Linked DNA regions of Homo sapiens: region 2 is linked to region 1. Evidence: fine-mapped expression QTL. A gene starts in region 1. The other region holds a variant in brackets. All regions are shown on one strand. Distances are between the middles of the regions.

Region 1 (2,919 bases):
TGCATTAAGGGCTACCCAAATAGTTGGGAAAACCTTAGTACAGGATATGTCTGTGAGAATGTTTATGGAAGATATTAGCAGTTGAGTCTGTAGACAATGTAAAGGAGATCTGGCCTCATCAGTGTTAGGGGCCAACATCCAATGCTTTGAGAGCCAAGATAGAACAAAAAGGCAGAGAAAGAGCAAGTTACTCTCTTCTTGCCCTGGATCATCCACCTTCTGTTTTCCAACATTAAAGTTCTTGGATCTTGGGCCTTTGGACTCTGGAACATACAAGAATGACCCTCACCCAGTTCTCAGGCCTTCAGCCTCCAACTGGGAATTTCACCATAGGCTCCCTTGGTTTTCAGGCCTTCAGATGCAGACTGAATGATACCACCCACCTTCGTGTCTTACCAGGTTGCAAAAGGTATATCCTGGGACTTCTTAGCCTCCATAACTGGATGAGCCAAGTCCCATAATAAATCCCCTCTTGTACATCTATGTATCCTATTGGTTCTGTGTTTCTCTGGAGAATCCTGACTAATACAATAGGTTTCAGTAATTTTCATTTCACAACTGTTTTTCTAAGATGATCTCAACTCCCCATGCAAGCACTGTCCCTGCAGTAACAGTATCAATGATCAAAATTTCCCATCAAAGAGATGAAAGCTAGGTGTCCCAAACCTTTATTCTGGTATTCTGATGTCCCCTTTGCACAAGTGCTCTGACTGTGAACACTACAGACACTGTTCTACTTTAAAATGGCATATGCTAAGTGGCTCTTCTGTTTAGAAAGTTGCTACAATCCTAAAAGAAGCATATCTAAGAATATGGAGGAAGAAATATTATATGAATACAACACTGTTCCTTACAGGGCTAGACACACTCACCGATTACACAGGCAGGAGAGGCATTTTCTGTGAGACAAAATTCCTCTTTCGTCCTCCAGCTTCGGTGCGATCTAACGGATGTTTTATCATTCCTGTCATGGCGCTATGTAAACTCTATTTCCCTTATTCCTTACTGAGCATAATGAAACTCACAAAGCTGACTCTAACGTTCTACTTTACATAAATGTGTGGAGAAAGAAGGTAATGTTTACTAGGCTCTCGCCAAGGGTAGAGGCATTTTGTATCTGAATAACTCTGACTACCTAGGTGACTAGTTGTACACAATACCCTCCAAAAATCTCTGTATGGTACCTTAAAAAAGCAGCGAAGCTCCTCCCTTGTCCAAGGAGGCTGGAGACACCACCTCTCAGCCTTCCCCTCCACCTTTCTCCATAGCAACGGGGTCATTCCTCCCTGAGGTCCAGGAGAAGGGCGACCTCTGCCAGCCCAAGAAGCGGTGAGAACTACATTACCCAGAGGCCCGTGAGCCAGGTTCTTGGCGTGGAGCCAATGAGGCTCAGGGGAGGGACATTTCCGCTCTGTCCAACTTGTCGGAGCGGAACTTCCGGCGTCCTCCCTGTGGCGGGCACTTTGGCTTGTGTCAGTTCCATCCGCGGGTGCCGGATCTGGACCTAGGTGCTGACAGCGAGAAGGCGCGAGGAGAGTCGTTTTCTCAGCTGCACAGCCGGGGCCTGACGGTCGCCGGCGGTGGTGACAGCTTTGCTCTTGTCTCCGCCCGGATCGTCCACCGCTCCCGGCCCGCTCCGCCCAGAGTCCGATGGCGGCGGCACTGAGGGCCCCGACCCAGGTGAGCGCTGCGTCCTCCCGGCCTCCTCTGCCCTCCCCACCCGAAACTGAGGGACGCGTGAAGGGTTTTCTGCAGCCCGGACCGCACTGTCCGGCACAGTGAGGCGCTGGTGCTGGATCTCGTTTCTGGTAGTGTGGCAGGGAGCGGGAGAGCGACACGGTCAGGGGGCTGCGCGGGCAACAGCTTGGAGCTGCGCCTGAGCCGGGAGGCTGGGGAGACCCAGGCCGGCCTCACGCGTGCAGGTAGCAGAGGGTGGGGCAGCGCCGCGCTGCATTGGCCCCACTGAGTTTCACCAGCACACTGAGGGCCACAGCGCGTAGGACAGAAGAGGGGCACGGCCCCAGTCACGCTTCTAAAAGTTTCACAAAAGCTGTTCAGAGGAACGCGCTGGAAGGGCAGTGATGATAGCAGGCATGGAGGGACCTAGTCTTTTTACGAGGTCACAAAGCTGGTAAAAGTCAGCACCAAGGACTGACACCCAGATACAAAGCAGTCATCCCTGGACACCTGGCTCTGGTGTTCCACATTGGAACCAGAAGTCCATGGAGCCACACTTTGGTCACCTGCCTCTCAGAACATGTTTCCTCCCACAGATTGCCACTAGTACTTACAGGTCCGTAAGAAGCACTTGAAGACCCTACAAGGGTAAGTGGAGGAAATCCAGAAGCTCATTGATTCCAGCAATGGGATCTCTAGGATTGGGACTGTGGTGACCTGGGATTCTTTACTTACCGCTTTTCCAGGCCTTGAGCCTAGGGACTCTGAACAAAAATATGTCCAGGGTGAGTATTATATGAGGTGGTGCCTGTTGCTGGCAAATAATAGGATGAATGTGGAAGTTTGTCCCAGAGATAAGTACAGGTGTTTGGAGCTGCTTGGAGGTGAGGCTGAGCTGGTTAAGAGAACCTCAAGTCTCATTTCCTTCTCATGGGAACAGAGAGCAGAGGTACAGGAGTTAGAAACTAAATGGCTGTCTCAGATGTCTTTGTTCTGGAGATGATGGCAGCAATGAAGATTTGGAGCAGAAGAGGGAGGTGATCTTCCCCAGGCCTCATGAGGCTCCTGTGGCTGAGCACAGACAACAGACTGTGGGTTTAAGGGAGTTGGTAGCAATACCAAAGAGGAAAGAGGAGACTACTGCAATAGTCCAGGTGAGTGTAGATGATGTGGGCCAGAGTAGTGGCCACAGTGTGGCAGAAATGGTTGAATTTTGGATTGTAGGTCGGCTCTGATTTTCTG
Region 2 (2,919 bases), 47 kb after region 1:
GGCAGTTCTTGCTCTATTCATCTTCATGAACTGAAAATGCCTTGACAAAACATGAGAAAGAATGGAAGTTAACAATTGAGATGAAATTTGCCAACATTTATTTTGGAATCAAAGTCTATTTTCATTATGAATCCTCTGGGATTTTGTAACATAAAGTTTTCTAGTGCAAATACATTGGGATTTATTAGGATTTACTGATAAAGAACTCTCAGTCACATTTTAGTTGTCCATATTATATATTTGGTACATTCTGTGATAACGGAAAGTACAAATAGCACTAATGTTTTGGGGAAGAAAATAGCTACTTGTTGCCTCCTTCCCACAGAACCAGGGCTAGATAATGAGGAGCACATCTCACTAACTGATCACACAGCTGTCTGTAGACATTTGGCCAGGAAGAGCACTGTGGGATGAATCAAACAACCAGGAAATCAGGTGGAGGAGAATCAGAAGAGATGCTACTGTTTGTTTTCAAGTAAATCAGGCTATCTCCAGAAGGATCATCAATCATAGATAAGTGTTTACTTCTAGTGTTACACAGGTAGAACAGAAAGTATGTTAAATTTATATGTATTTGAAAGAAAAATTTAAGCATGAAGTAAAAACTGAAGGAACATTCTAGAAAAGTTTTAGTACACAAAATAAGAGAATGTAATTAAACGGTATTTCACTGTAGATTTCTGCTACTTTGGTCTCACCCATTAAATCCCCTATACCTCACATAGTTGACATGAACAAAGCCATTCATTATTCCACTGGCAAATACTTTCCTGTTATATATGTTCTATTCATTACCTATTCCAACAGCCTCTCATACACATTCACCTTCGAAGGTGATTTCAACAGTTCTCAGCTGGGCGCAGTGGCTCACGCCTGTAATCCCAGCACTTTGGGAGGCCGAGGTGGGCAGATCACTTGAGGTGCACATCATCTGGTGTGCTTAGCATTACTCCATTTCTGATACTGTTAGAAGGCAACTTCTAACTTTGTCAGCTCCAACCAATCCCAAGCTGGCCAAGCACCTATTGGGTCTCTTTTGCTCCTGGAGGCAACATAGTCTCCATTTACAAATACCACTCAGGCCTATTTATTCACCCATCCACAAAACAGCCCACTTTTGGAGGCCTTTACAACAGAAGGCCCTAGAGTCAGTTCAGATGACCATATAACAGACATTTCCTTTAGTGCCTCCTGGAGATTCCTTC[A/ATGGTAGAAGCTC]TGGTGGACTACCCACTAGACTCTCTTCTTAGACTCTGGACCACACATCTGGCCATAAGCTGCCCATGGGCTTCTGGTGCAAAAAACTGCCTGTTTTGTCCTCATGTAACATGCAATTAGAGCAACAACTGCCAGCTACATACTGGGACCTCTTAGAAACAGAAGCTCTCACAGGACCTGAACCATGGCACACTCCACCCAGTTACACATTATTACCTGGGTCATGAAAGCAACACCTACAAGCTCAGCCTGATCACCAAGGCCTTGATACAGGATGGAGCCAAACCTGGGCCCCCTGGTGTATCTCACTTGGAAAAAGAGGTGGCCTTCTCTGTCCTCAGTCTCTTGCCAGATGCCATGGTGAAGGAAGTCTCCTCTCTCCTGGGCCCTTGGCAGCCCTGGAATCAAGTAAGTAAACAACAAGGGGAGAACACATACTTTGTTGACAGTAATGCCACCACTACATGAGCTGGAGCTCTCTGGAGGTCTGCTGCTTTTCTTCTAAACAAGACACACTGCTGAAGGATGGGAACTGCAGGCAGTCATTTTAGCGCTGGAGGCTACCTTGGCCAAGAAATTACCTCAATTACACTTCTAGTCATTTGGTGCAACCAATGGCAACAATTTCTCGTTCAAGATCATACTCTTGGGGTAAACAACTTCAGGAATTTCTTGCCTCTCAGATATCAAAGATATAAATTAAGATCATGTATGTCTCCGCCCACACCAAGGCTCAGACTGCTGAAGCCTAACTTAATTCCCAAGCTGGTAGATTACAACAATTTTCAAAAACTAGGACCAAAACTTTGTTGGATGACCTTCCAGGCCCATTCCTTTATTTTTGGCCCAATAGGCCCATGAAACAACAGTCATAGAGGAACCTCTATGAGGAACCCAATCTTGAAGACTGGGGCTAAACACAAAGTGTTTCCCCACCCCTCTACCATGGCCAACATGATGACGGGTCAGTGCACTCTGTGGGAATACCTGTCATTGGCAAGACAACTGAGGTGTGCTATTCTGGATCCCACTTTTAGTCATGTGGCAGGTAGATTTTACCAGGCCACTGCCTCTGTCTACCAGTGCCACTTGTTATGCTTTGACTGTGGTTGATGCCTACCGCCGACATCTTACTTTACCCCACTAGACATGGCACTGCTGAAGCTACTATACAGCACCACAAAACGCTCCTATTCCCTTTGGAGTTCCCGACAACAGCGGTGAACAAAGCTCTCATTTTAGACAAAGCATTTGAGAGAACTTGCGACATTCCAATCAGTCCCAGGCTGCTGGTTTTATAGAATGCCACAATGGCTTACTTAAAACTTAGTAGAAATTATGAAATAGCATATGGTCTTATAGATGGGTCTTTTTCCTGCCATTAGACCTTATTATACTAAATTCCCAGCTCTATTCCCTGCCAAAATGCACTGAAAACATCTCCATTAGATTTCATTGCCCTCTGTGGTGACACTTCACATAACAGAGCTTACAAAGATCATATTGAACTAGGCATTCCTCCTGTTCTTCCTCTTTCTGCTATCACTTTTCAGTCCCCATCCTGACTGGAAAGAAAGACAGACTGAGGGTGGATTGTGAGTTATGATCCTCATGAATGAATGCCCCTTTGGCTTCCTGCCAGAGCCATCTGGCACCCTGCTAACGTTGAGTCGCCTAAGGCAGGAGTTTTGCCAAATATTCTTGGTTATAAAGG

The links. PIP is the estimated chance that this variant, and not a neighbour inherited with it, causes the effect.
Region 2: its variant is fine-mapped to the expression of ZNF530 in tibial artery (GTEx, PIP 0.98).

Annotation. Positions count from the first base shown.
Region 1 is chr19:57,598,455-57,601,373 of GRCh38, forward strand. ZNF530 (zinc finger protein 530) reads left to right here and starts at 1,431. Exons shown (of 4, transcript NM_001321981.2): 1 at 1,431-1,680; 2 at 2,274-2,325. RefSeq lists enhancers at 1,479-1,688, 1,779-1,898.
Region 2 is chr19:57,645,687-57,648,605 of GRCh38, forward strand. No RefSeq gene overlaps it. Among named protein-coding and RNA genes, the nearest start is that of ZNF211, 14 kb to the left of the region's middle. The variant A/ATGGTAGAAGCTC (reference allele first, on the strand shown) is at 1,206.